Homo sapiens: one gene and its partners. The protein of the gene in region 3 binds, or shares a complex with, the protein of the main gene of each other region. Links are inferred from orthologs where the notes say so. Each region holds a gene or a part of one and is shown on either strand. Other genes may lie near its edges. The genes, in order: SORT1, NTSR1 and NTS. A codon is read from its position in the direction of its gene.

The links.
Region 1: the proteins of NTS (region 3) and SORT1 are in contact, whole or in part, in a crystal structure (PDB 4PO7), measured with the Homo sapiens proteins. Residues at the interface, in NP_006174.1 of Homo sapiens: Leu152, Tyr153, Glu154, Asn155, Pro160, Tyr161, Ile162, Leu163; in NP_002950.3 of Homo sapiens: Val112, Ser113, Leu114, Ser115, Trp116, Lys260, Tyr304, Ser305, Phe306, Gly307, Leu308, Phe314, Ser316, Arg325, Ile327, Phe350, Tyr351, Ser352, Ile353, Tyr395, Gly399, Thr570 (codon at 1,177), Gly571 (codon at 1,174), Leu572 (codon at 1,171), Ala573 (codon at 1,168), Trp586 (codon at 1,129), Trp597 (codon at 1,096).
Region 2: the proteins of NTS (region 3) and NTSR1 are in contact, whole or in part, in a crystal structure (PDB 4BUO), measured with the Rattus norvegicus proteins. The link is inferred for Homo sapiens from one-to-one orthologs. Residues at the interface, in NP_001095851.1 of Rattus norvegicus: Arg157, Arg158, Pro159, Tyr160, Ile161, Leu162; in NP_001102437.1 of Rattus norvegicus: Ser53, Asp54, Leu55, Asp56, Asn58, Phe128, His132, His133, Tyr146, Met208, Val224, Cys225, Thr226, Pro227, Ile238, Arg327, Arg328, Phe331, Cys332, Tyr333, Ile334, Ser335, Asp336, Trp339, Phe344, Tyr347, His348, Tyr351.

What each region holds. Positions count from the first base shown.
Region 1 is NC_000001.11:109,323,849-109,334,221, forward strand, and holds part of SORT1 (sortilin isoform 1 preproprotein), read right to left. Parts: intron 3,754-10,373; coding exon 3,651-3,753; intron 3,313-3,650; coding exon 3,144-3,312; intron 1,242-3,143; coding exon 1,051-1,241; intron 1-1,050.
Region 2 is NC_000020.11:62,710,094-62,720,466, reverse strand, and holds part of NTSR1 (neurotensin receptor type 1), read right to left. Parts: intron 1-10,373. UniProt on the Homo sapiens protein: G-protein coupled receptor for the tridecapeptide neurotensin (NTS). Signaling is effected via G proteins that activate a phosphatidylinositol-calcium second messenger system.
Region 3 is NC_000012.12:85,868,158-85,878,706, reverse strand, and holds the start of NTS (neurotensin/neuromedin N preproprotein), read right to left. Parts: upstream 4,413-10,549; 5' UTR 4,304-4,412; coding exon 4,231-4,303; intron 2,068-4,230; coding exon 2,006-2,067; intron 363-2,005; coding exon 138-362; intron 1-137. UniProt on the Homo sapiens protein: Neurotensin may play an endocrine or paracrine role in the regulation of fat metabolism. It causes contraction of smooth muscle.

The DNA of each region.
Region 1 (10,373 bases), on a different chromosome or scaffold from region 3:
AGGGGAGAACTCCCAAGCCAGCTTCTGTACAGTCTACTGAATGGATTTAGATGACAGCGACCCTCAGGCATTAAATCTATTTGAACGTCTTATGGAAATGTGAGGTCCAAACCAAGGGTCTGCTCCTTCAGGAGTCACTAAATCAACACGCTGAGGAAATGAGCCCACGACAGTCTCAAAGGACCAAATTCAACTAGAGTGTCTAGAAACGTTAAGTCTTTTATTGTATTATGCCAACACTTAACTACAGGTCATCCTTTTTCCAGTGTTTTTCTTTATCCCCCTTCTTTTTTTTTTGAGACAGAGTCTTGCTCTTGTCGCCCAGGCTGGAGTGCAATGGCATGATCTTGGCTCATTGCAACCTCTTCCTCTCGGGTTCAAATGATTCTCCTGCCTCAGCCTCCCAACTAGCTGGGACCCGCCACCTTACAGGCACCCGCCACCTTACCTGGCTAATTTTTCTATTTTTAGTAGAGATGGAGTTTCGCCCTGTTGGCCAGGCTGGTTTCGAACTCCTGACCTCGTGATCTGCCTATCTTGGCCTCTCAAAGTGCTAGGATTACAGGCATGAGCCACCGCGCCTGGCCATTCCCCTTATTTCTTAGCATAATGCCAGCATCTTTGTTTGGCAGTGAGGTTAGGGTTTGCTTGTGACACTTTGGAAACACTGTGCAATGAACATTGTGAATCCTTTTCTGAACCTATTTTCTGGGCCGTTAATATTGCTTAATGTTGAAATGATAATATTTTGGATATATTAAGTTTATTTTATTAATATCACCTTTCTTTTTACTTTTATAATATAGCTGACAGAATAATTTAAATGACATATGTGGCCCTCATATTTCTCCTGGACAGTGCTAGCACCGAGGAGGAGGTTGTTTTTCTGATGCCATTCCATTACTTAATCACCCACACAGAACATCTGTCAATCCTCTTTCATATGCATATGCATCTGCTGATTCCAGCTAAAAGAAATTAAACCATATTGATTATTTAGGAAAATGGACTTGGAAGTTTCTGGTAGAAAAGGTCAAAGGAGACACTCACAGTTCCTTTCAAGGATATCTTTAAAATCAATGGTGTAGGAGACCCACTGGCTGGTCAGGAAAGATTCTGTGAAGCCCCAAATGCTGATATTCATGGACCTAGCTCCAGGTTCTGAAGCTAGGCCAGTGAAATAGATGGGGTCCCTGGTGAACGTGTAGGTTTGCCAGCATTGACCTTCGTCTGTGGAGAACCTGAAACCACAATTACAGAAAGATCATGACAGAGGATCAATGTGTACTGGGAATTCAGAAAACCACTCTGGCTTTTTGATCCCAAACCAGACAAAACCCCTTACATTTAGGTGGTGGCTTATTGGCTGACAATTATTTTAACTTTTTTTTTTTTTTTTTTTTTTTCTGAGATGGAGTCTCACTCTGTCACCGGGCTGGAGTGCAGTGGCGCGATCTCGACTCACTGCAACCTCTGCCTCCTGGGTTCAAGTGATTCTCTCTCATGCCTCAGCCTCCTGAGTAGCTGGGATTACAGGAACGTGCCACCACACCAGCTAATTTTTGTATTTTTAGTAGAAATGGAGTTTCACATGTTGGGCAGGCTGGTCTTGAACTCCTGACCTCAGGTAATCTTCCCACCTTGGCCTCCCAAAGTGCTGGGATTATAGGCGTGAGCCACCGCACCCAGCCAACTATTTTAACTTTTAACGTCTGTAGTTAACAGGATAAGGAAGAGATTTGTTCAGAGAGAATATGAAAGTAAATACCTTTACAGAAATTATTTCAAAGGAAAGACAGGAGAGTGACCCAGGTAAGAACTGGCTTTTAAATTAATAAATTTAAGGCTGGCTGTGGTGGCTCACGCCTGTAATCCCAGAATTTTGGGAGGCTGAGGCAGGTGAATCACCTGAGGTTAGGAGTTCGAGACCAGCCTGACCAACACAACAAAACCCCGTCTCTACCAAAACACAAAAAACAAAGCAAAACAAAAAACCACAAAAATTAGCTGGGTGTGGTGGTGCATGCCTGTAATCTCAGCTGCTCAGGTGACTGAGACGCAAGAATCATTTGAACCTGGGAGGCAGAGGTTGCAGTGAGCCAAGATTGCACCATTGCACTCCAGCCTGGGTGACAAGAGCAAAACTCCATCTCAATAAATAAATAAATAAATAACAATCAAATTATTTTATAAGAACTTATACTTCTTTTTTTTTTTTTTTTGAGACGGGATCTCACTCTGTCACCCAGGCTGGAGTGCAGTGGTACGATCTCAGCTCACTGTGGCCTTGACCTCCTCAGGTGATCCTCCCACCTCGGCCTCCCAAGTAGCTGGAACCAAAGGCGTGCACCACCACGCCCAGCTAATTTTTCTTTTTTTTTTTTTGTGGAGACAGGGTTTTGTCACATTGCCCAGGCTGGTCTTGAACTCTTGGGCTCAAGCAATCCACCCACCTTGGCCTCTCAAAGTGCTGGGATTACAGGTGTGTGCCTCTGCACCCAGCTCAGAACTTGTACTTAAGAAGTCATTTTCAATCTAGAGTGCTTGAACGCTTCCATAATAATTTTGTAGACAGAAAGAATATATATATATATATATATATATATATATATATATACATACACACACACACACACATATATATACACACATATATACACACATACACATATATATACACATATATATACATATATATACACATATATATACACACACACACATACATATATACACACACACATATATATATATATGGTTTTTTTTTTGATTGAAATAATATTAGAGACAAGGGACAAGGTCTCCCTATGTTGCCCAGGCTGGTCTTGAACTCCTGGCCTCAAGCGATCCTCCTGCTTTGGCCTCCCAAAATGCTGGGATTACAGGCATGAGCCACTGCGCCCAACCCAGAAAGAATGTTTTTAAGAAGTGACAAATATGTTAGCTAAAGGCAGTCAGAAGAAAAAACAATGCCATTTAATCTGAGTTGCCAATTAAAAGCAATCCTTTCTAGAATCTTATCTATAGTTCTGTCAAATGCAAAAATTTGAATTATAGTCTGTAACATCCCCCCAATAAACTGAAGAACATTCCCCCAGTTGCCCTCTATGCAGACAGTGTGTGTGAGATGAGTTCATGCATACTTAATCACATTGATAGGACGGCTGCTGTGCTCAATGGCCACAATGATGCCTCCAGAATCCAGGATGGTGTAATAGTGGGGTCCTTCCAGCATCTTTGTCCAGGAGTAACCCCCATCATCTGAGATGTACACATCTGGAACCATCACTGAGATGGCATCCCCCACGCTACCTGCAATATAATCCACCATCTCATTAGCACAAATAGGCAATGAAACAGAGAGCATTTACTCCAGAGAGAATAATGTTGAATGAATTTATTCTGATTATTTCCCATCAAGCCTCTTTTAGTAGGAAAGAAAACCACCAAAAACTTCGGAGAAGTTGTGTTGCTCTCTCTGATAAAAGTTGATGAAAAACCCAAAGTGTTGTTATAATGTAAGAAATTCTACCAAAGGAATGTAAAAGCATCCACATTGTTTCTTCTCAGAGCGTTCAAAGCCTGTTGGCTGAGTTTCAGTGTGCTCAGCCACTGTTCCAGTTGGAGGTGGTGAGTGGGAGGTTCCTTACCATGAGCAATGACAATGCCTACGGCATTCGGCTCTGAGAGTGGGGCCATTGGAACATTCAGTTTCTGGGAGATGCTGTAGGAAGCATGAATATGAAGGCTGCACTGTGAAAAGAAACAAAAGCGTAGATTAGAACCAAAGATAAAGATACAATTTCTTTAATCATTTCACAAAACCCTTCCAATAAAGCTTTAAGTTAACCCAGACCTAGGTAAAAGTACTATCTTAACTATTTATTTACTATTTAGGTGTATAGTTCAGTAGTGTTAAGTATATTCACATTGTTGTACAACCACATCTCTAAACTTTTTCATCTTATAAAATACAATCACCAATTAAGCAACTGTTACCTACTTCTTCCTCCTCCCAGCTCCTGGAAACTACCATTTTACTTTGTGTTTTCTATGATTTTTACCATATTACTTTGTGTTGGCTACTCTAGGTAGCTCATATAAGTAGAATCACATAATATTTGTCATTTTGTGTCTGACTTATTTCACTTGGCATAATGTCCTCAAGGCTCATCCATGTTGTATTAATAGCATATGTCAGAATTTCCTCCCTTTTAAAGGCTAAATATTATTTAAGTGTGTGTGTGTATCTGTATCCACACACACCCCACACTTTATTTACTCATTTATCTGTCAATAGACACAAGTTGCTTCTACCTTTTGGCTATCATGAATAATGTTGCTATGTACATGGTTGTACAAATATCTTTTTGAGAACCTGCTTTCAACTCTTTTGGATGTATAATCCAGAAGTGGAATTGCTGGATATGATAATCCTATTTTTAATTTTTTTTAGGAACTACTATGCTGTTTTCTGTAGCAGCTGCACCATTTTACATTTTCACCAAAAGTGCACCAGGGCTCCAATTTCTCCATATCCTTGCCAACACTTTTTAAAATAGTAGCCACCCTAATCTGTGTGAGGAGATACCTCATTGTGGTTTTGACTTGCATTTTCCTAATGATTAGTGATGCTGAGCCTCTTTTTATATGCTTGTTAGTCACTTCTATATTGTGTTTGGAGAAATGTCTATACAAGTTCTTTGCCTATTTTTTATTCAGGCTATTTGTTTGTTGTTGAGTTGTAGCTCAGTGGCATACTCTTGATTCTGAAATGTACTACAATATCTGGAAGCAAATATTTCCTCATGGGTAACCTGTCTCCGTTTATTTTATTTTTGCATTACATCAAAGCCTCTGAACAATGTTTAAAGGCTGACTCTACACAAATAAACTTGATAAGCACCTGATATACTTCAGACACCGTACAAGATGTGATGGTGGTTCGAAATAAGATCCAGTCTTGTCTTTAAGAAACTTAAAGGCTCCAGGTCCACTCTCACAGACCCAGCCAAGTGGACCCCTGCATCAGGCCAGCCCCTGCAGGCTCAGGGTAGGGCCCACCCCTGCACCAGGCTGGCTCCTGCAGATCTACTTACCGGGCTCCAGGTGTTTCACCTGAAGACCCACTTAAAAGGTCCACCCTAGTGGATTCCACTGCCAGGCCTGCCGCAGAGGACCCAGCCTCCAAGCTACCCCCAAAGACCAAGGCACCAGGCCCACCTACCTGCAGAACCTGTCAGTTGCCCCCCCAAGAATCTCTGGATGAGCTACCTGGTAAGGGCTTCCCCTGCTGAAGCCATCTGTAAAGGCCTATGTGTGTAAGAGGACACATAGGCTAAAAGTAGAGATAAAAAAAAGATATTCCACTCAAATGGTAGCCAAAAGAGAGCAGGGGTGGCTATATTTATTTATTTATTTTTGAGACGGAGTGTCGCTCTGCCACCCAGGCTGGAGTGCGGTGGTGCCATCTCAGCTCACTGCAAGCTCTGCCTCCTGGGTTCATGCCATTCTCCTGCCTCAGCCTCCCAAGTAGCTGGGACTACAGGCGCCTGCCACCACACCCGGCTAATTTTTTGTATTTTTAGTAGAGACAGGGTTTCACCATGTTAGTGAGGACGGTCTTGATTTCCTGACCTCGTGATCCGCCCGCCTTGGTCTCCCAAAGAGCTGGGATTACAGGCGTGAGCCACCATGTCCAGCCGGGGGTGGCTATATTTATATCAGACAAAATAGACTTTAAGTAAAAAACTATCACAAGGGATAAAGAAAGTTACCACACAATGATAAAGGTGTCAATTCATCAAGAGCATATAACATTGGTAAATATAAATGCACTCAACATTAGAGCACCTAAATGTATAAAGCAAACATTAACAGAACTGAAGAAAGAGGTAGACGACAATACAATAATAGTAAGGGACTTCAATACTTACTTTCAATGATAGATCATCCAGACAGAAAACCAGTAAGGAAAGAGCAAACTTGAACAACACCATACAAATGGACCTAACAGACATATACAGAACATTCTATCCAATAGCAGCAGAATATACATTCTTTTCAAGTGCACAGAGAATATTCTCCAGGATAGTGCATATGTTAGGCCACAAAACAAGCCTTAACAAATGTAAGACTGAAATCACCTCAAGTATCCTTTCTTTTTTTTTTGAGACGGAGTCTCACTCTGTCACCTGGGCTGGAGTGCAGTGGCGTGATCTTGGCTCACTGCAAGCTCCGCCTCCCGGGTTCAAACAATTCTCTGCCTCAGCCTCCTGAGTAGCTGGGATTAAAGGCACCCGCTGCCACGCCCAGCTATTTTTTTTTTGTATTTTTAGTAGAGACCAAGTCGGCCAGGCTGGTCTTGAACTCCTGACCTCGTGATCCACCCACCTCAGCCTCCCAAAGTGCAAGGATTATAGGCGTGAGCCAGTGTGCCTGGCCTCAAGTTCTTTTCAACTACAACATTATGAAACTAGAATCAGTAAAGGGAGGAAAATTGGAAAATTCACATGAATGTGGAAATTGAACAACATATTCTTGAACAACCAATGAGTCAAAGGGAAATAAAAAAAACTTGAGACAAATGAAAAGGGAAACACAACATATTAAAACTTAAGGGATGCAGCAAAAGCAGTTCTAAGAAGAAAGTTTATGGTGATAAATGTCTACATTAAGAAAAAAGAAAAATCTCAAAAATCTTAACTTTATACCTCAAGGAACTAGAAAAAGAACAAACTAAGCCCAAAGTTAGCAGAAGGGAGGAAATAATAACAGAGCAGAAATAACTGAAATAGAAGTTAGAAAAATAACAGGAAAGATCAATGAAACTTAGAGTTGTTTTTTTTGACAAGATAAAAAAGTGACAAACTTTTAATTAGAATAAGAAAAAAAGAAAAGACTCAAGTAAAATCAGAAATGTAAGAGGAGACATTATAACTTATACTACAGAAAAAACAAAGGATCCTAAGAGACTACTATGAACAACTATACATCAACAAATTGGATAATCTAGAAAAAAATGGATGAATTTCTAGACATATACAGCTTACCAAGACTGTATCATGAAGAAGAAATAGAAAATCTGAACATACTAATATGAGTAAGGAGGCTCAATCAGTAATCAAAAACCTCCCAACAAGAAAAGCCTAGGACCTGATGGATTCAATGGTGAATTCTAGCAAACTTTCTTCAAAGAAGAATTAAGACCGATCCTTCTCAAACTCTTCCAAAAATTGAAGAGAATGGAACACTTCCAAACTCATTTTATAAGGGTGGTATTACCCTGCTACCAAAACCAGACAAGGACACTAGAAGAAAACAAAATTACAGGTCAATATCTCTGATGAACATAGATGCAAAAATTCTCAACAAAATACTAACAAACTGAATTCAACAGCATATTAAACAGATTATATACCATGATCAAGTAGGATCTATCTGTGGAATGCAAGGATGGTTCAACATATGCAAATCAATAAATGAGATATGCCACATTAATAGAATGAAGGATAGAAATCATATCATCTTGATAAATCCAGAAAAAGCACTTAACAAATTTCAACACCCATTCATGATAAAAACTCTCAATAAATTAGGTATAAAAGGGATATACCTCAACATAATAAACCCATTCATGATAAAAACTCTCAATAAATTAGGTATAAAAGGGATATACCTCAACATAATAAAGGCTATATGTGACAAGCCCACAGCTAACATCATACTCAAACAGTCAAAAGCTAAACCTTTTCCTCTAAGATCAGGAATAAGACAAAGATGCCCATTCTCACCACTTCTGTTCATTATAGTAATGGAAGTCCTAGCTGGAGCAATTAAGTAAGAAAAAGAAATAAAAACAAAAAGCATCCAAACCAGAAAGAAAGAGGTAAAATTGTCTGTCTGCAGGTGACATGAGCTTATATATAAAAATCCTTAATCTTTAAAGACTCCACCAAAAATGTTAAAACTAATAAATTCAAAAAAGTTGCAGAATATAAAATCAACATATAAAAATACAATATACACTAACAACAAACTATCCAAAAAAGAAATCAAGAAAATTTCATCTACAATAGTACAAGAAAAAAACTTAAAAAAAAAAAACAAAAAAAACTTAGGGATAAATTTAACCAAGGAGGTGAAAGACTAAAAACTACAAAACATTGATGAAAGAAATTGAAGATGACAAAAAAAAAAAAAAGGAAATATATCCTATGTTCCTGGATTGGAATAATTAATATTGTTAAAATGTCCATACTACCCAAAGTGATCTACAGATTAAATGTAATGCCTATTATTTTGACTGTCTTTTTTTACTATTATATGGTTATAAATAACCCTCTTTCTGTGACAACACAGAACAATCCAAACACGTTAATTCATCAGATGTTTACTGAGTACCTGCTATATTTCAGGCACTGTTTTAGGTACTTAAGGTACATCAAGAACAAAACAACCAGTTGTGGTGGCTCACATCTGTAATCCCAGCTGAGAGGCTGAGGTGGTAGGATCACTTGAGGCCAGGAGTTCAAGACTAGCTTGGGCAACATGGTGAAACCCCATCTCTACCAAAAAGTACCAAAATTAGACAGGTGTGGTGGTACACACCTAGCTACTTGGGACGTGGGAGGATTGTGTGAGCCTAGGAGTTTGAGGCTGCAGTGACCTATGATTATTCCACTGGACCCCAGTCAGGGTGACAGACTAAGACTTTGCCTCTTAAAAAAAATTCCAATGGTATTTTTCACAGAAATAGAAAAAATCCTAAAATTTATATGGAACCACAAAAGACCCTGAATAACCAAAGTAATTGCAAGCAAAAAGAACAAAGCTGGGGGTATCATGCTACCTAATTTCAAAATATATTATTGAGCTATAGTAATCAAAACAGCATGGTACTGGCGTTAAAAACAAATAGACCAATGGAACAGAATAGAGAGCACAGAAATAAATCTATGCATTTATTGTCAACTTAACTTTGACAAGGGTGTCAAGAACACACAATGTGAAAAAGACAGCCTCTTAAATAAACGGTGCTGGGAAAACTGAATATCTATATGCAGAAGAATAAATTTCAACCCTTCTTTCTTTTTTTTGAGATGGAGTCTTGCTCTGTCGCCAGGCTGGAGTGCAATGGTGCGGTCTCGGCTCACTGCAACCTCCGCCTCCCAGGTTCAAGCAATTCTCCTGCCTCAGTCTCCCAAGTAGCTGGGACTACAGGTGCACATCACCATACCCAGCTAATTTTTGTATTTTTGGTAGAGACGGGATTTCACCATGTTGGCCAGGATGGTCTCGATCTCCTGACCTCGTGATCCACCCTCCTTGGCCTCCCAAAGTGCTGGGATTACAGGCGTGAGCCACCACACCTGGCCTCAATCCTTATTTCATGTCATGTACAAAAATCAACTCAAAATGGATTAGAGACATAAATGTAAGACTTGAAACTGTAAAACTACTAGAAGGAAATATAGGGAAAAAAGCTTCTTGACATTCATCTGGGCAATGGCTTTTTGGATACGACCCTAAAAGCACAGGCAACAAAAAACAAAAACAGACAAATCAGATTGTATCAAACTAAAAAGCTTCTGCAAAATAAAGGAAACCACCAAAAGAGAGAAGACAAACAATACACAGAATGGGAGAAAATACTTGCAAACCATACATCTTATAAGGGGTTAATATCCAAACAAATCAGTAGCAAGAAAACAAATAATCCAACTAAAAAATGGGCAAAGGACCTGAACAGCCATTTATCAAAAGAAGACATATAAATGGCCAACAGGTATACGAAAAAATGCCCAACATCACTAATCATGAGGGAAATACAAATAAAAACCACAATGAGATATTATCTCACCCAAGTTAGAATGGCTATTATCAAAGAGATAAAAGGTAAGTATTGGCAAGGACATGGAAAAAAGGGAACCCTGTACACTGTTGGTGGGAATGTAAACTGGTACAGCCATTATGCAATACCGTAAGAAATTTTCCTAGAAAATGAATAACAGCAGGGCCGAGCATGGTGGCTCATGCCTGCAATCCCAGTACTTTGGGAGGCAGAGGCGGGTGGATCACGAGGTCAGGAGTTCGAGACCAGCCTGGCCAATATGGTGAAACCCCGTCACTACTAAAGACACAAAAAATTAGCCGGGCGTGGTGGCACATGCCTGTAATCTCAGTTACTTGGGAGGCTGAGGCAGGAGAATCACCTGAACCCGGGAGGCGGAGGTTGAAGTGAGCCAAGATCGTGCTATTGTACTCCAGCCTTGGTGACGGGGCAAGACTGTGTCTTTAAAAAAAAGAAAAAAAAGAAAATGAAGGACAGAACTACCAGCAATCCCATTTCTGGGTTCATATTCAAGAGAAAT
Region 2 (10,373 bases), on a different chromosome or scaffold from region 3:
GACATTAAAAGGATGATGACAGAATACCACAAATAAATCTATGCTCTAAAATTTGACAAAATAGATTATATGGACCAATTCCTCAAAAGATACAAATTACTAACACTTACTCAAGGAGAAATATATAACCTGAATATTCCTTTATCTTTTAAAATAATTTGTCTTGTGAGATGGAGTCTCGCTCTGTCACCTAGGCTGGTGTGCAGTGGCGTGATCTCGGTTCATTGCAACCTCCACCTCCCGAGTTAAAGCGATTCTCCTGCCTTAGCCTCCCGAGTTGCCAGGACTACAGGTGCCCACCACCACACCTGGCTAAGTTTTGTATTTTTAGTAGAGACAGGGTTTCATCCTGTTGGCCAGGCTGGTCTCAAACTCCTGACCTCAGGTGATCCACCCTCCTTGGCCTCCCACGGTGCTGGGATTACAGGCCTGAACCACTACACCTGGTTTCTTTGAAAAGAATTGAATTTATAAAAACCTTCCTACAAAACTCCAGGCCCGGATGGTTTTGCTGGACAATCTACCAAAGCTTTAAAGAGGAAATCATGCCAATTCTACACAACCTCTGACAGAAAACACAAAAGGAACAAGAACCTCCCAGCTCATGTTATGAGGCCAGAAAACCAGATGAAGATAACCCAGGAAAATAAACTTACAGACCAATATTTCTCATGAGCATAGACACAAAAATTCTCAGCAAAACACTAGCAAGTCAAAACCAGCTAATACACGACGAAATGAGGTCTATCCCAGGAATGTGAGGCTGGTTCATCATTCAAGAATTAACCAAGGTTTTCCACTTATATTTGGCCCCCGGAGTGGTCAAATTCACAGAGACAAAAAGTAGAATGGCGGTTGCCAGGGGCTGGGGGAGGAGGAGATGGGGAGTTAGTGTTTAACAGGCGCAGAGCTTCAGTTTGGAAAGATGAAAAGAGCTCTGGAGAGGGAGGGTGGAGATGGTCGCATGACGATGTACCGAGAGGGAGGGTGGGGATGATCGTATGACGATGTACCGAGAGGGAGGGTGGAGATGGTCATGTGACAGTGTACTTAGTGCCACAGAACTGTGCACTTATATTGATTAAAGTGGTAAATTTTACGTGATGTACATTTTATCACAACTGGAAAGTAATCAATATAATTCACCACATTAACTGACTAATGGAGAAAATCCACATGATCTTGCCACATGATGAGACAGAAAAATCACTGCACAAAATTTAACATTCATTCACGATGAAGAAAAAAATCTCTCAGCACACTAGGAATATAAGGAAACTTTCCTAACTTTATAAAGAGCTCTAACAAAAACTTAAATAAACGAAAAACTTTTTTTTTTTTTTGAAAGAAAAAAAAAGGGACTGGAAGCAAGGCAAGGATGTCTACTCTCATCACTCCTATTCACCATCATACTGGACGTCATAGCCAGAGCAGTGAGGCAAGACCAGGAGCTGGCCAGGATGCAGAGTGACCACTGCTTCATGTGGGTTAAGGCTAGGGTGAGGGACGTTCAAAACAGCGCATCGCTTAGGAAACACTGGCAAACATACACTTTCTGTATGACCCAGCAATCTGAAACCTACGTATTTACTCATGAGAAATGAAAATGTATATTCACACAAAATTCATCATATGTGAATATTTGTAGCTACTTTATTCATAATCGCCCAAACCCAGAAACAACCCAGAAGTCTTTTGGTGGGCAAATGCCTCAACAAAACGTGGTCCATCCACAGAATGGATCTGACTGCACAATAAAAAGGAACGCCTGGTCAATGCAGGCAACAGCTCAGAGGATGCAGTGAAGGAAGAAGGCCGGCTCGAGAGGCCACAGCCCAGCTGGCTCCATTCACTCGACGTCCCAGAAAAGGCAAAGCTGTGGGGGAGGAGAGCGGACCAGTGGGTGGAGGGGCGGGCATCGGGGCGGGTGGGCCACAGGGCTGGAGGGCGGGGGCCGGTGTGTCTTCTGAAGTGGGGATACATGGCTGCATTTATCGAAGCTCATAGGTGCGAACAAGCACAGAAGGGAATCTTATTGCCTGTCAGTCGAAAAATGAAGTAGGAACAACGAAAAGCACGTCTCTGGTATCCAACCCCTCTCCGCCACCTTCTCCACCCCCACCCTGGCCTAGGACTCCTTGGTCACTCCCCAGGCATCCAGCAGCAGCTTCCCAACCATTCTGACCCCTAAATGCATTCTCCACAAAGCAGTCAGAACTGTCCCTTTAACGTGTAAGTCACGTGGCGGCTCTGCTCAGAATCTCCCACGCCCACTCACTTCTTCCAGAATAAAAGCTGTGGCGAGGTCTACGAGGCATGATCTGCCCGTGGCTTCTCACACGGCCCTCTGCTCCCTCCGCTCCGGCCACCCCGCCAGGCCAGCGCTGTTCCTCCAGCACCCCCAGCACGTGCCTGCCCTGGGGTCTTTGCACCTGCTGTTCCCCTACCTGGCATCTTCCCCGACGCCCACCGGAGTGCTCCTGCAGGGTCTGCACGAGGCCTTCCTGACCTGCCTGCACCCCCACGCTCCCCCCGTGTGGTTTTCTCTGCGGCTCTCGTTACTCCTTGCCGGCCATGTATGGTGCCTATTTATTTCGCTTATTTTCTGTCTTCTCTGATGGGACGTGAGTTCAAAGGGCCAGAACTTTTTGCCAGTTTTTTTGGGCTGCTATACCCCCATCCTGGCATGTGGTAGGTGTTCAGTGAATGAATGATGAGTGAATGAAGGAAGGAAGGAAAGATGTTAGCCCAGATGCTCAGAAGAGAATTCCTCCTGCCTGGGGAGGCTCCCAGCCCTCCCAAGCGCTGCTGCATTTCTGCCGTTGTCCAGGGGAGAACACAAATCATGCTCATGGGCGATTGAGTCCTTCTTCCACCCCAGGCACAGTCTCCAGCGTTTTATGTCATTAACTCATGAGACTGCAGGGCAATCGCTACCTCCAGTTGGCTTATGGGGAAACAGAGGCACAGATGGTCACACCATTTGCCCAGAGTCGTGCTGCTGGCCAGTGGTGAAGCTGGGATTTGAACCTGGGTTCTGGCAAGCCAGCCATTCCAAGCCACTGGGGACAACCCAAAACCACCTATTCTCGGGAAGCATTCTCCTGATCTCCTTCTTGCTTCCCTGACTGCCTTCAGGAGCCAGCCCTGGGTATGTAGGACACAGCCCCCACAGGTGCACAGGGATGTAAAATCCCAAAGTAGGCACGGGTGGCTTCGGGTGGGTCAGCATGCTGGGCACCTCCCCTCTCCAACCTGTGCCAGGTCCACGTGGCACTCCAGACCCAGGGCTCTCACCTTGCCCTCCTGGGGTGGGTGGTGCCCCACTGGCAATGCTTTTGGGAAGAGCAGTGGGCACCAGGGTGGGGCAGGCGCCTTGCCCCGCTCTGGGCCTCAGTTTCTTCATTGACGCTGCAGAGCCCGGTGGTCCCCCTCCGGAGCTGTGCATTCCCCTTGGGGTGACACATGGACGGGGACAGCCCCTTGGCCACTGCGCCTTCACTGGCGATGGCAAGGTCAAACTCCAGGGCATGGCGGGGGAACAGTGGGGGTCTCTGAGACAGGCAGACCCCATGGCTGTGACCTCAGTAACACCATCCCCACCAAGCGCCAAGAACCAGGATCTCTATTCCCCTCCGTGCCCCCCTTGCAGAGCTAGCCTCGTGCAGGCAGCAGCCTGGTCAGGGAGCGAGGGGCTGCCGGGATGGGGGCTCATGCTCTTCACAGCCCTTCATGGCCGTCCAGGGGAGGACGATCTTGAGTGCACACAGGCCCACAGGAGGGAGGACCTGGCCACCCGAAACAGCCTTGAGCGGACGGCAGCTCGGTCACTCTCTGCTGCTGTTGTTTTTCACAGACTCACGGAGGCAGGACTAACACGCGCTGAAATCCACCCCTCAGTCTACAGCCCCACGAGCTTTGAACCACAACCAACACAGACTCACGGAGGCGGGACTAACGCGCTGAAACCACGAGCTATGATCCACAACGAAGATACAGAACATTTCCGTCACCCCAGAGTTCCCAGCGCCCCTATGGCCACCCCACCCCTCCTCCGACCTTCCTCCTGTCCCAACGGCTCAGCGTTGTCCAGAACCTCAAGTGCTTGGAATCACCCAGGGCCTTGGAGTCTGGCGTCTTTCAGCAGCAAGCCTGCCTTCAAGAACCTGCATCTTAGAGAAGACCCAGGGGAGGCCTGAGATTCTGCCAGTCTGAGTCATCCACCTCACCGAGCCAGAAAGCAGAAAAGAGGTTACCAGGCGCTGGGGGTCAGGGTTTAATGGGGACAGAGTTTCAGTCTGGGGAGAGAGAAGGTTCTGGAGGTGGATGGTGGCGACGGTTGCACAGCAATGTGAACGTGCTTCACGCCGCTCAACTGTGCCCTTCCAGATGGTAAAACAGCACATTTTAAGTGATGTGTGTTTCACCATGAATCAAAAATAAAGAAAAGCTTCTTTCTTCTCTTAATACAAACTACTAGATCACCACGTGAGATTTGATTGAGAAAAACGAAGGCAGCCTCTGGTTCGTGCACAGGTCGGACGTCCTCTCGGGCCCTGCTCAGCCCAGGGCCCTCTCTGCCCATCATCAGATGTTACCAGCTGGGAGCCCCAGTGCCCCTGAGAACAGACCTGGAGATCCCTGGGCTGCTGCCTGAGGCCTGCCTCACCTGTGGGGTGGCTTGTGGTGGTTCTTGGCAAGCACAGGGTGGCTGTACCCCCTTGCTGCCCTCAGTACCCACAGAACTGCAGGCACAGCCCCAGGACCCCATTTGTCCTTGGAGTTGAACATCCTCAGAATGCTGTCAGTCCAAGTGCAGGACAGCCCGGGAGAGCTGACCCCGGGTCACAATGCAGAGCTGTGAACAGGTGAGCCTGAACCACTCTGGGCCAAGTCACTCTCGAGGACTCCAAGCCCAGTCAGAGCCAGCCATGGCCAGCTCTGGGCCCCTCACGTTCCCACCCTTGCCCATCTCACTCAAAAGCCTGACCGTTGTCCCCACGGGGAGCACCACAGGGTCAGGCTAGGCCTTCCCTTCTGAGAGCACCTCCAGGCCCTGTCTCTCTCCAGCCACGTGATGTGCACAGGTGGCTCTGCCCTCTGCTTCATCTGGGAAACGGGGTTACGGGGTACAGAGGTGGACCCGCATGTCTGCACGTCCTCACCCTGCCGTCTCCCACCTGGCTCCAACAGGCAGGTCTGGTGCCTGGAACAAGGCCAAGGTCACCTCCCTGTCCTGCCCTCTCACCCCCCACAGCCTCAGAGTCACCATCTGAACGGTGATTTCATACGCCAAATTCTTTATTTCCAACATATAGCACCTTAACCTTTTGAAAACTTTTAATTACTAAATTTTTCAAACATGCCAAAAATGTCATCAACACTCACTTTCCATGATTACAGACTTAAGACCAATCTTGTCTCCTCTGTAGCCCTCCCACAGCCCCTTCCCCCAGATCACGCTTCAGTAAATCTGAGACATTGCATCATTTTGTCTGTAAACATTTCCGCATGTACCTCTAAGAGAGCAGGACCATTTTGAAAACCATACCCACAACAGCTCTGGACAACAAGAATTTGTAGCTATTCACTACCTAGGCTTTTTTGCTGTTTCTTGGCAGGAAGAATGATCAGCTTTGGTGCCGGCTTTCTGCGACAGGTTGACTTGTCCGAGTCTTTGCTAAGAAACCAGGCCACCGTCTCCGATTCCCTCACTGTTTGTAGAACAGAACGAGTTGTTTATTTGGAGCTGTTTCTTGTGGTCTGGGTTTTGCTGGCTGCATCCTAATGGTACATTTGTCCCTGTTCCTCTGTCCCTGGTGTGTCCTGTGTGTTGGATCAGGGGCTCCATGAGATTCAGATTCAATGGCTTTGCTCCAAGGATGCCACGAGGCTGTGTGCACACCAGGGCTCACCTCACACCTAACTCTCTCCCCTTCGTGACCCCAGCAGCTGTCAAGAATCCATGCCTACATCCATTGATTTATGAGGATTGCACCTGATGGGTGGTATTCTGACCATCCTGCTCCTTCTTCACTTATTGATGAACATTTCTGGGCTGAGACACTGCCTTTTATCTACTCTTGGGTTATTCTAAAGTACCGTTTGAATAGAAAAGGCAGGAAAAATACTCCATTCCTTTCCTCTAAAGGGTCATGGGCTCAGACTGGAGGAAGTGTGTGACTCTTGGCCCCACACCAACAGCCCTCTATGCCCTGCGCTGCAGGTGAGGACACTGTGGCCGCTACGGCCAGAGCCAGAGCTGCCCACAGCTGCGTGGCGTGGGTCCCCTTCCCGTCCTCACGGGAGGTCAGAGTGGAGCAGGCTGTTCCTAAGGACCCCTTGAAGAACTTCTTCTGCAACTTTTTTTTTCTTTGAGACAGTTGTCACCCAGGCTGGAGTGCAGTGGTGTGATCTTGGCTCACTGCAACCTCCGCCTCCCAAGCTCAAGCGATTCTCCTGCCTCAGCCTCCCAAGTAGCTGGGATTACAGGCATCCTTCACGACGCCCAGCTAATTTTTGTATTTTTAGTAGAGATGGGTTTTCGCCATGTTGGCCAGGCTGGGCTTGAACTCCTGACCTCAGGTGATCCGCCTGCCTCAGCCTCCCAAAGTGCTGGGATTACAGGTGTGAGCCACCACGCCCGGCCTTCTGCAACTTTCTAACTTGAAAAAGTTCCTACTGCAGAACAGTTGCAGGAAGAATGCCCAGGACACTCAGCTGCCTGTGGCAGGGCTGCAGCCCAATGCCGCATGACCCGCAAGCAGTCTCCTCCCTTGATTCACTGTCTGCTTGCTCTCCTTCCATTTGGCCACACCTTTCTTTCTGAATGATTTGAGAATAAGTTGCAGACTCCACACTCTAAACACCTCTGTATCCTTCCTAAGAACAAGGATGCTGCCTGTGGAGGTTGCTGGGCACAGCCTGGGGCACGGGACAGGAGCCCTGAAATAATCCATGGCCAGATTTCACTGGAACCTGTCTCCTTCCCTGTCTCAGCCGCCTCTCCTTTCCCGGAATTCTGCCAGCCCTGAACGGCTGGGGTGTTTGCCAAGTCGCCCTGTGATCTGTCTGCTCCTGGACGCCTCTGGAGCAGGGGTTGTAGGACACCAGCGCCTCCTGCACAAATTGAGGCCCCTGTCTGCCCCTGGGAGGGAGCAGGTGCCCTCTGAGTTGGGGTCTAACCCAGCGAAGAGCACTGCTGTTTGTACTCAATATGAAGAAGGCTTTCAGAAAAAACAAGGAGGAGGCAGGGAGGCTGAGCCTGCAGGAGCAGGACTCCCTTGGTGCAGAAAATGGCAATGATGAAAGGAGTCCTCACGGCTGCTCAGGAGGGTCTAATGGACTCGTGCCTGTGAGGCTGGGAGGGTTTGCTTTCGTGTGTGGCCATAGTCAGGGGCGGGTCTCTAAAACTGTTTCAAAGGCTGCAGCCACCTCATCTGATTTGAATCGGACACCTGAAGTCCCAGGCCCCTGCCACTGTGGGCCCCTGGACACACACATGTGTGCACACGTTCAGTATACACGCCATGGACAGATGACAGATAAGCATGGGACTCTGATGACCCACCATCTGGGCCATCAGCCCTGAGCCCTGCCACACAGATCGTGTGCCACTGGGACCCTGTCACAGCCGAGGTCAAAGCTGAGCTGGAGGTTGGGCCTGGGCCATGGGGGACCATCCAAGAAGCAAGGGCCATCTGCCCGTGTGGGGCCACGTGTGCGGGTGGGTTAGAGGATGGGTAGGACAGTCCAGGGGAACCCAGGGGCACCCGTAGGTCCCTGAGCCCCCAGCTCCTCCTCCCAGTCACCCTGCTGGCACCAGGGCCAGGTCTGGGGCCTTTGGGAGGGTCCTGGGCACCAGGTCCTGTCTGCTGACCTGAGAGCCCTGCCCACTCCACCATCAACTCCCAGTCCCAGCTACACACTAGGAAAATGCCCAGCTGGCTTCAGGGAGGATTATTGTAAGTTGCTCCAAAGTGTTATCACTGAACCACCTCATTTCTAAACACAATTTCTGTTTGCAAGTGCCCAGGCCAAAATTTCGTAGGAGACGCTGGGGCAGGAAAGGACCCCTGTTTTGGAAAGAGGGGCCATTTGATTGGCCACTGCCCCAACACTTCCAAACATGGTCACTGAGAGGGAGACACTTAGCTCAGGGTATCCAGCCCCTCTTCAGCCAGACATCACCATCTGAAAACCGTGGATGTTTGCCCAGATCTGCCAATGGCCCAGAAGCCCACGTGGGGACCGTAAACCCCCTAATTCCGGGGAAACCTTTCATAAAATGGCAAATGGCGGGGCAGGGGTCAGGGGAAGCCAAGGCCTCTCCTACGAGGAATGTTCTTTTCAAGCACACAGAGCAGCTGGCATCGGGGCCCTGGAAAGCCCCAGGTCATCAGCATCGGATGGAGGAGCACCCTTGTAATCAGCTGCTCCCAGGCACGCAGCTGAGCCCTTTAAAGAAAAATGGAAACTACGTTCTCCAAGGGTGCCTTCAGCAACGCTCGGCCAGCATGGCGTCTGCAGGGCGTGGGGCCGCTGTCCTACGGTTGATACGTCACAGGCCTCTGCGATTGGACGAGTGCCTGTGGCCGGCCGTAGCGTGACTTGGCCAAATCTGCCTCGCAGCCTCTGAGCAACAAGGCTGGGCAGGTGGTGCTTTGGGAGGCAAAGTGATGTCCCCCAGGTGCCCAATCCCAAGTACCTGGCAGAGAGCCCACGCACGCGGGGAGGACACTTTCCGGGGGGCGGAGCCGAGCTGTCCTCACGCCCCTGTGCTTTTCGGCTGTTTGTTTTTGAGGACTGCAGGAGGCTGGTGAGCTCCTGGCCTTTTGCCAGGGGAGCAGGGGGATCGGGGTTCTGAGCGGGGGGATCGGGGATCTGAGCGGGGGGATCGGGGGTCTGAGTGGGGGGATCCGGGGTCTGAGTGGGGGCATCTCCTGGGTGGGCAGTGACAGCGCTGACCCCTCCACTGCCCACCTTCTGAAGGACTGAGTGGCTGTCGCCCCTGGGGCCCCTCCACGCGGACTGGGGAGAGGTTCCCCCTGGCCAATGCCAATCAAAGACAGGAGCTTGGGGAGAGCAGATAAAGCCTCAAAGGGAGGGAGAGGTCATTTCTCACTGTGTTTACCCCACAGGCCGTGCCTACTTCTGCCTCTGGTGAGGGGAGGGACTCTCGCCGCAGAAGCAAAGCAGCCCTGACTCACTGCCTGCCACCAGTGTCTGTGGGAGGGGCCTCCCCGAGATGGGACACCTGTAGCCACCAGTTCTATGTGCAGCCAGGGAGACTGGGAGCTCAGTTCTACCCTCCTCCACCCCCCAGCCCACCTGGGTGGTGGCCAGTGGAGGGTCAGTTAGGGCCCAGGGAGTGACAGACAGGTGACCCCCTGCCCGGCACTGCTGCCCTCACCCCCACCGGGCATACTGGCATACGCGGGGTGCCCAGGCAACTACAGAAGCTTAGCTGGGAGGCTGGCGATGCTGGTGTGTGGGGAGTTGGGGGGACAGCCAGCCACCCTGGCCCCTCTAGCTGGGCAGAGGTAGGCGACTCTGCCCGGATCCTTCACCCTCTGGCTTCCTTAGCCCACCAGAAATGGAGGAAACCCCACACTTCTAAGGCTGCTCATTTCCAAGATGCCTTTCAAAGTTCCCGACCGGCCCTGACTTCCTCCCTGGACACCAGCCTCCTGCTCGGGGCTTTGGTTTGATCAGCCCTCCCCTCCAGCACTGGAACCCCCCGTGCCACGAACCTCAGCCAAACTGATTCCCAAGGGGGCTTCCCACCCGCATTCCCACGGCGCTTTGCTCAGACCCTTGGAGGGCCCTTAGTCACTCGGCTCCAGTTTTACACACCTCACCACAACACCGCCGCCACACGCAGATCCTCACAACCTTCCCCGCAGAAACATCGTCCCCACCATCCCGCAATAATAGTGCCTGTGAGCCCTTCTATGTGTCAGGGGCCATGCAAACACTTCCCACGCGTCCTCTCTCCAATGCTCTACCTTCTGAGGTCAATGCTATCACTACCCCATCACACAGATGGGAAAGCTGAGGCTAAACTAGGAACTGGCCCAACACGGCATCAGGTTCTGTTCTGACTCCCAAGTTTGGGTCAGGGCAGGCAGCTGGGAGGCACCGGCAGAGCCAGTCTGGGGGCTTCTCTGCAGAGGAAGGAACATCACCTGTTGGTGGCACAGTCTTTTGAGAAGCTGATGAAAGTGTTACTCTTCCTTTGGAGACGCAGGTGCCAGCGCACATGTTTCCATTAGGCTTAAGGAATTCAGAGATGTCCGAGGCCCAGCCACCAACACCAGAGAGGTCACAGGCAGGGGCTCCATCCCCTCAACAGGAGGGAAGAAGATAGGGGC
Region 3 (10,549 bases):
CTTCAAAACATGGCTTGTTCTTCTTCAATACTTGTAACTCTTCTTGTTATGATTATGATTGGGAATTTAAGAAATTAATATAAATGAGAGCTAACTAGTGTAACTATAATCATATTAATATTTTGTTATTGCTATACCTCCCAGTGTTGAAAAGCCCTGCTGTGACAGATTTTGTGGAGCTGGTATATTGTCAACATTGCTTCCAAGCTAAAGCCATCTAAAGCAGTAGGAAGTTTCCTTCTTGCAACAAGCTCCTCTTCATGAACTTCTCCTGTTTCCTCAGCTGGGCTGTTCAAATTATTTACAAGACTGCAAACATTTAGCAGAGTCATCTTCCAAGAGGGAACATGTGCTTTACTAATCTGAAATATATTAAAAAAACCCCTGCAATTAAAACTTGTGTTACATGAGCAAGAAATGAATTCCTAGTGTGCTAAACCATCACATTTAGGGTCTAATTGCTACTCCAGTCTAATAAATATAGTGTTATTTATTTAGTAACATCAGTTCACAAAGTTGTATACTGCCAATATCTCATAACTTCTGTTTAATAAAATGCAATAGTTATATTCACATATACATGCACTTATGTGTGTACACACAGAGCAAAGTAAGAAAGCAAGGAAATTAAAATGATGGCAGAAATATATAAATGATATATATATCACAGATGAAAAATTAAAAATAAAAAATTATTCTGTCTCTATTACATTTCAGCTTAACATGTAATGGAGCAGTGACAAAGATGGTATTATTAAATGTGGACAATTACAAAGTATGAGGCTAGTAATGCATTCCACACATTAATAATTGTTATGGGTAGCATCACAGATTATATAGAACCTTCATGTATTAACTTGCATCTGGGAATTAGGTAAACCTATACCAAGACACCAAGACACCTAACTTATCCCATTTTCTAACACGGACTATTAACTTCAGTTGTCTATTTTTGAACTGAAGAGGTTGTAGCCATTGGTATTCTGATTGAGTACTAAACAATGAGAACACATGGGCACAGGAAGGGGAACAACCCACACCGGGGCCTGTCAGAGGGTGGAGTGGAGGAGGAAGGGCTAATGCATGCTAGGCTTAATACCTAGGTGATGGGTTGATAGGTGCAGAAAACCACCAAGGCATATGTTTGCCTATCTAACAAACCTGCACATCCTGCCCATGTACCCCAGAACGTATTCCTAGGTACAGATTGGAATTTTAAAAACTGGCTTTCAAGACCCCAATAGAGGAGTAATAGGGCCCAGGATACAAAGTTGTATTTGGCTCAATTAAAAAAAAAAAAAAAAAGAACATGTAAAAATAACATGTTTGTTATAGGGAGAATTTAAATCCAGACATACAATGAAGAGTACAGTTTAGTAATTCCTAAATACATTGTAGAACGGTAAATGTCTAGAAGATTACGAACTGCAATCCCTGCATTTAAAAACAAGGAAACACAGGTAAGCAAGGTGAACTAATCCACTTGCTAAAGATAAAATATTTAATAAGTCACTGTTTCAGGATTAGATCTCAATGCTCCTGCTTACCAGTCCATTGCTATCCCCTCTATACTACATTTCTTTTGCAGGTTGTCATGAACTTTTATTTCTAATTTAGGAACACCTTTTTATTTCCCCCAATATAATAAAAAAGGCAAAGAGCTCACTTTGTTTTCATTTAACTTGAGACCAATATACCTTTCATCATACCCAATGTAAAAGGCATGGAAGCAAGTTCCTTTAAAAACATTTACAGGCAAGTAAATATGTGTGGCAATTAATTAAAATTGCAACATGCTGATTGATAGAATTATAATTTCTTTGCCTGTCATATCAACACCTTTAACTTCTTTTAACTAAAAGAAATTTTTTTTTTCAAAAAGGAAATGCCTCTCAAGGAACTTTTCAATCTTGATGAGAAGTTATTACTATGGGAAAAGGATACCATGTTTATAATGAAAGTTCATATGTTCTTCAACTCAGGGTTAAAGAAAAGAAAAAGTTACCTTTGATGTATGCATATTGGTCAAGAAATCTGCTTCTAATGCTTTCATTTCCTCTTCTGAATCTGAGTAAAATCAAAATCAGGTTTACTATAATTACATATCATATAATTATATCATAATCTACAGATTTTAGGTTAATCTAAAAAAAAATCTTAGAGGTTAGTGTCTTTCTTATGTATTTTCTTAAAAATAGTAATCCTAAAAAACAAATTATAGTTATACTTTAGCATAATAGGAAGCTAAAATAGTAGAAGCACTTCTAAGAAAATAAGCATATGATTATTTTTCAGACAGCTATTGATCACTGGGAGTTGTTTAATCTTTGAATTTCAGGCTTTAAAAATGTGATTACATTGTATAACACATATTTTACCAAATATGCTAGAGTAGCTTATTTCTTACCAGCCACAGTTTACATATATAGAAAATATGCATATTAACATTTAAAAACACAACATAATGAAGACTATACAAGAGACTTTTTCAAGACAAAACCAAAGGGAATTGCTTACTGATAATTTTAGAATAATAAAGATACTGAGGTTTACTTAACTTGAGATGTTTTTTACAAAACACACGTTGAAAGAATTGTATTGTACTTTAAGAGAATTCAAAATTATGTATCCTCAATTTTTTCATAGGCATTTAAGGAAATTGTTTAAAGCAAAAGTGGAGCTGTTCAACAACACATGTACAACAGCATTGAAAATGGATCTCTGGATTTTTAAAAAACTCTATCCAAGTTTCTGTTAATGAATATTTTACAGAGAAGGAAAATTTGGAAAATACTATACAATAATAAAAATAAAGTTAAAAATGACTCTATCTTCCTTGTACTACACACTCAGTAAAAAGAAATGCCACAATTGGAGAACCCATTGGCTTAATTTTACCTAGAACCTAAATTATACAAGAGATCTTTTCTCACTATTTGTTAGAGACATAATCTGTTTTAGGAATTTATGAACAATGTATACCAAAATCCTTATAACTATTGCATTATTACAACAAGTAGTTTCAAGTTAATAAACACAGTGCTTAATCAATAACCCAGTTTTTCTTCCAGAAGTATGTGAATCTTTAATCTCATATAACTTTCAGATAAAATCATAATTATAGAAAAGTTTGTTTTTTCTCATAAGATTTAAAAAGTAGAAGCTGAAAGTTATGTTCTGATGATTAAAATAAATTTAAAATTTTGTATAAATCACATTTATATCTTCTTAGATTTTAATTTCATAATTTAAATCAAATGATAGCATGAGTTTGAGTTAAACATTTCCATGTCATATTTATGATACATAAAAGCACAGAACAGGTTAAATTATTTTTGCTGCATTTGCTTCCTAATGTGTTCTTTTCCCTTTGAAGTGTTCATTGTAATATTTCTTAAATATTAAGTAGAGCCTTTTGCAATGGTTGTAATATTTCATGTTATACCTTTCAATTTAAGTCTTATTTTCAAAGTGAGTTATTCGTAGATACTTAGGACTATATAACTTCTTTCAAACCACATGCAAAACACTCTAAAGTCAAATAATTTCCATCAATATAAGAATACCAATTTTCCAATTGTATTTTGTATTAACTTAAATGGCATGGAAAAAATGCCAAACAGTTATATTAATAGCACACTTATTAGACTATGCAAATTCTGTTCTCAAAAAGGATCTGGAATATTTTTGTATTTTTCTAGAAATAATTTTCTACAAATAATGCTTCATTTTTCACTAAGTATCAATTTTCACTTTATTTGTTATCTTAACACAAACAAGAAAATAATACGGGGACTATTACAAGGGCGTGAGGGCCACCGCTTCCTAAGAGAATGAATGAGGATGAGAGTAAAACATTTTGAATGGAATGGGATTTAATGATGGGTTTGCAGGTTGACAGCCACTGCCTCTGTATTTCTCATTAGATAATGATCAGCCTAATTGAAAGTTTTGTAGGGTTTTTTTCCCTCTAGTTGTTGAATTCCAAAGGAGGTCGTGCAGTGTTTCATTGAAATCCCTTTTATTGCTTTGCAGATTTTAAAAGAGAAAATACATCTCTCAGTAATCATAAAGGCAGAGAAAGAGATACTCAGTTTCTGTCACTAAAAGGTAAATCCTGAATAAAAGGGAGCAACTCTTCTCCCCAGATACATTAACATAAGTAGCAACACACTGCAAAAGAGAAAAAAGAAATCACTTCAGGGAGTTGTGAAATTCTGTTTTGCTTACCTGAGCACAGACTCCAGGAGCTGAAAGCCAGGAGTAGCATGCATACAAGCTGGATTTTCATTCCTGCCATCATCTTTCAGCCTTCTAACAAGCCAAGTCCGTAAAAGTCAGAAGCACACTGAAGGGGGCTCTCTCTAGCACTTCCTCTTTCCTTCAGCTGGCTTTGAAAGTGAGTGAACTATGAGAGGTGCTCTGGCCATTCCCCTATATATATAAGCAGGAGGATGATGTCATTGATTGTACAGACATTATCTTTGCAGGATGTGCCCTATCTTCACCTCCATCCCTCCCCTCTTTGCCCTGCTTTCTCCTCCCCTTTTCCTTTGTCCCCCCTGCTCTCCTCCCCCATTTCTGAACCTTGAGTGAAAGTGACGATCTTCCCTAATTGCTGCTGCTGCTGCTTTGGATTTCTGACGCACAGAAGGAGTCATTCAACTGCACTGACATACAGCATACATACAGCATACTGACAAAGAACCCCCAGTATCATCCTTTTCCCACTTCTCATTCCCCCACTCCAAAAGTTGTCATTTTGATTTTGTGAAACATGAGATCTGTTATTTCTAATTTTTAAGGAAAATCTCCAGGATGAATGCATGAAATCAGTGATTCCTTAGGCTTGGAAGTTCTTGAAGAGTTAGGGTGCTTCTCTGGTAATTCAAACTTCTGAGCAAATGTTTAGTGGTTCCAAAACTAATACAGGTTTTAAATAATCCATGCTGGAATAAGATGGAATAGAGACAGAGAATCAGTTATAAAAATTAAGCAATTAAGTTTAGAGAATAGAAAGAAAATCAATAAAAAGAAATAATAGATCCAGGGAATAAGATATTATTTCCTAACAAATAGAAAATATTTTATTGTAAGTAATGAGAGATGACTGAACTATGTGTGCTGACTTTTGGTTGAATGTATTAGAAAAACAATTTCATGTTTATAAAATCCAGCTCTAAATTACTTACATTCTAGCAGGTAAAAATTTGTGTTGTTGTATCACTGACTTTTTTTCTGTACATTATCTCTTTTTATGCCTATATTTTTCTGCTCTTTTTGAATTCATTCTTGATGCCATGTCTCACTCTTTGTATAATTCCCTTCTCAACAGTTTTTACTATTGCATCGGCTTTCTTTCCCTGTTATAATACTCTTTTCACCATAAAAAAAGAGATTGTACTTTTGGAAAGGAGACAATCCTAAATAACCACCATTCACCAAAGTCACTTTTCTATGATAGTCTTCATGTATTTCATGAGTTACACTGATACCCATTCTTTGTCTGAGTTCTCAAAAGAAAATTGTTCAAAATGCCTTTTAGAGTAAAACTTTCTTCTTGTAGTAAGCATTTCAAGATACATGGGGTAATTTGACAAGTCAGTGCTGTTAGAGATGTGAATATTTGAATGTAAAGTTGTCTGAGTCTTGTTTAATTTTTAAATAAATCAATCATGTAGTAACAGTTGAGAAAAAATAGGATTGGTTCCTATAGATAATTGATTTATATTATACAATCTATGAGTTTAACTTTTTCACCTTTACCCAAAACTTAAGCAAAGCGATTAAATCCAAACATTTAATAATTACTTAGAATAGCAAGGAGTCTTTCATATAATACCAGAAATTTAATAATAACTGATATATTTATTACTTTTAGTTTGTTTTCTGAACTTACATAAAACACAATATTGAACATACTCACATGGAGGAAGGTTTCTGTAAAGTATTTAGTTGACAAATGTGAAATACATACGTCTAGATGTTTTCTGCTTTCCTACCATTAGGGGGAGCAATGGAAGCTTGAAACACTTGGTTTTCACTTAACAGAGTCTCAGTGAGGATTTGTGCTTACTTTCCTGTTACTATCAGAGCATCTTTGTGACAGAATCCTCTTAAAGCCACTTTGATTAACAAATCGGGAAAATTATATATACTTTGCATGATAATTAAATTAGTTGTTTTCTCTGCTTTTGAATTGCAAATACAAAGAATGATCTTTTAAAATGTGTGATAGCAGTCTAATAGTAAAAAGGAAATGTGATTCTTATTTTCCTCAGATGATTTCTTCAATATGTTGACAAAATTGATCCCTAATTAATTAGAAAAAAGGGGGAGAAGAATTAATGGAAATTCATTTTAAATATATAACATGGATATTAGTTGTTAATGTGAAAATTGAGATATGTGATAAATATTCAAGAATAGGGGAAACATTAAGTTATGTCAAATAATTCAAATTCAAATAGATGCTATATGCTACTTTTCTTTTGGGGAAAAAAGATGTATAACTTTGGTAAAATTATGATGTAGATAAACTTTGACCTCTAATTGGTATTTTCTTTAATGTGTTAGGCTTTTTGTTTCTTGCTCTAATCTAATGCCTTCAAGCTACACATAAACCAATAAAACAATTTGTTGTAGGGATAAAGGTTAAGTATGTATTTTTCCACTTAAAAAGTACCCTACGAACTTCCTAAATGATGCCTTTAATGCAGGATTGTAGACACCTTGCTATGGAGATGGGTGAACTGTTTTTATTTTAAAGGCTTTTTACCCCAGATCCTTTTTCTTTTTTCTTTTTTTTTTTTTTTGAGATGGAGCTTCTCTCTGTCACCAGGCTGGAGTGCAGTGGTGTGATCTCGGCTCACTGCAGTCTCCACCTCCTGGGTTCAAGCAACTCTCCTGCCTCAGCCCCCCGAGTAGCTGGGACTACAGGCACACCACCAGGCCCAGCTAATTCTTGTATTTTTAGTAGAGACGGGGTTTCACCATGTTGGCCAGGATGGTCTCGATCTCTTGACCTCATGATCCGCCCACCTCGGCCTCCCAAAGTGCTGGGATTACAGGCGTGAGCCACCATGCCCGGCATACCTTAGATCCTTCTAAGGGTTACCTAGTTCTTAAAATATCTGATAAAGATTTTAAGCATTGTCCTTTAATAATATTCCTGTGTTGGCCTTCTTAAGTGGATGTTACCTGTTAGGTACCTGTTGATTACAACATCTCTAAAGTAGGTAGATTTCTAAGCTTGTACTGTTACTTATGTCAGACCTTTATTAGGTAATTGCTGAAAATAATCAACAGAGACACCTGAAGAATTGGCAGTTAGAAAGAGTGGTCTGTAAGCTTATTTTGTTTGGAGAAGGGCAAGCTCTGGAACCAACTGATCAAGGGTTGGTTTTTCAGTTCCTTATGGTTTTTTCCTATAGCTCTGGTGACTTTAATACCTCATTAACAGCTTCCAGGATTTTCCAATCTTTTGGTAACCTAAATACCTGAAACTTGGCCTGTTGTGTTTTTACAACCTGGAATCTCCCCTTCACCTTCCTATGATCATCCTGTATTTTATGGCTTAATCAACAAAAACATTTCCAAGTTTGAGTCCTGAAAGTAGTCTCGTCTACTTCTATTTTTCCTAGTTTTCTGTTAAATGCTCCGTAGTTTGTTTATACAGTTTATGGTAAACTGTAAACTGCTAGAAGGAGAACATTCTGACTTCTAAGGTTTATAATCCATAAGTGATCAATACATACTTACTAAATTAAATGAAAATACTGATTACGTTTAATTTCTTACATGCCCTTTCCATGTTTTAATTTTAAATGTTTCTTTCAGCCACACCTTTTAACACTCTTTTGTTATCATTAATCTTCATATTTTATGTGAGCTTTTATAGTCAGTTTTCTCAGCCTTTTCTCTCATCATCCTTTTCCTCTCTGACTGGAAATGTTAACTTTAAAAAAATCATTCAAGAAGATTGTCCTTGGATCATGTACAATCATCAGCTGAATGTTTAGATAAATTGTGAGTTTGCTCCATTTCTATAAATGAGTCTATCATTTGAAGCTGTAACTCTGATTCATCTGAACAAATAATGATGTCAAAGTCTGTGAACCCAATTGATTTTTCTGTTCAATTAAAGTATATTTTCTAGAAATACAGATGGATGTGTGCATGCATACACCCACATAGGATGTGTATAACCCAACCTTGGAGATTTAGGTAAATGTAAACAAACGTTCAGTTTCCCAATCTGCATGTAACCTTGCTTTGCCCATAATCCTTACAAATTCCTAGCTCATTTCCTTTCAGCTCTTCCTATCTCTGTTATTGCATCCATATAGGTAATTAACCTGGAAAAATTGATGACTGACTTCTGTAGTCAAAGCATATTTTGCAACTTAAACCGTAATTACAAAATACGGTTTGCTTGGGACTTACATGTTAATGAGTTACTGTATTTAACTAACCATGCTCCACATTGCAGCCATTGCTGACTTCACCTATAATCTTGCTTCTCGTGTCTAGGAAAAAATGTAAATACTCACAAAATCACCACCCATTATGTGTAATGCTCAGGTAGTTTTCCTTATAGGTCTCCCTTTTGAATAAGACCAAAATAAAAGTATTACAGAAAAAAATGTTCCTGACAAATTTCTTCTTTCATGTTTCTTAGTTTTATAAATTAGTGTAATTATCTAATGTAATAAATGAGACAAATTCTTATTATAAGAAAACTTTCTCTTTTCTTTTTTAATATTACAAAGTCTAAGAAAATTTCCATAGCACCTGCAATACCTGAAACAGAGCAGATGTACTTGAGCTACCGTCTATCAGGAGCAAATTCAGTGAAACACTTTTTTTCTTTTTCTCAAGAAGATATTACATGTTAAATTTGGAATGTAATGGTTTTATATTATTCATACTCCTTGGGTTTATGATTCTTTTTAAATTTACTGTGCTTTCCCAGTGAATCTGATAAGTCTTATGGTTTTGAATCCTATCTATTTCCTAATAACCTCCAAGTTTGTATCTCTGACTACTCAAATTGTATATGCAATCACCTCATTAGCAGCCCTACTTGGAGTTTCATTAGGCAGACTTATTGTCTAAAGTAAAACTTTTGATTCCTCCAAACATCTTTCTAATAATCTTCTGCCCCTCTAGAGTTTTTCATTTCAATTATTAGAACCATGATTTACTGAGTTGCACAGATCTAAAAACTAGAATCCATTTACATTGTTTCTCTCTCCCCTCCACTTCCAAGCTAGCAAAACCCCCTGGGGTGCAGGTCTGTTCCAAAATATATTTCAAATCTAACTACTTTTCCTTATGTCATTTTTGCCACCTAAGTCCAAGCCACCACCATCTTTCTCCTGCGCTGCCATAATAACCATTTGAGTAGTCTCCCTACAACCTTGATCCCTTTCAGCTTTCAAAAACTCCAGAAAAGTTTTTAAAAATGTAAATCTATTCCTGTCATTCTCTGCTTAAAACATTCTAAAGGTTTCCTCTTGTCATGCCTGATGATGGCCTATGCTACCTGAGTGGGTTTTGTCTTCCTCTCTATCATCATATTCCACCATTCTCCCCTTCTGTTCCTATGTTTCAAGCACATTGGTCTTCTGGCTTTTGTGCAACATGCTAAGCTTTTTTGTTAAAGATCTGCAATGAAAACTGTGATTACTGTTCATCAAATATTCATTCCCTTACTCCTCCCAGAGTGGATGAAATATACTTCCTCACTCTTTGACTTTAACTTAGGAAATGAGACTTGCTTTGGCCAGTGGGATGTTAGTAGACATAAGAAAAAGACAGACTTGATTTGTGCTTGACACATAGGGCTTTCCCTTTCTCTCTTCTGCCATTGCCATGAGAAACTCTTTTCTTTTCTCAGATGATCCCAAAATGAGGAGGGACATATGGAGCAAAGCTGCCCCAGCTGACTTGCACACCTGCAATGTAAGGGAGAGATTCCCGAGCTTAAAGCAGGGTTACCCTAGCTGATTCAGAGACATGTGAACAGAGTTAAATAATTTGCTTTAAAGTAATTGACTTTTGGAGTCACTTGTTATACACCATTTTTGTGGCAATAGCTGACTGATACAACCATTTATTTTAAAACCTATTTCACCACTATCCCCATTCAATCTCTACAAGTCTTTATTTGTTCATTTATTTTTGTCTTTTGTTAATAAAAGCATGGATATTCTTGTCTTGTTTCCCTAAATTATCAGAACATAAATAATTCTCCTCATAGTAATCATTCGGTAAATATTGACAATATGCGTTAATGAATTAATCGAATTCCAAGAATCCCTCCCTGATGGTTTTAGAATAAGCTACCACTCCCTCACCTCTCACAAGGACATTTTTATTCTCCAATCTGTGAATAATAAAATCCAGGAAACCTCTTTCGGAGAAATTCCTAGCAAAATGAAATAGTATGAAAAAATGCTTCCTTTCAAAGATTCTTGAATATTGATTTAATTTCAGTTGGAATTTTCTAAGTTGTCCTTGAGGAAAACTGGGTGTACGGTGTTAC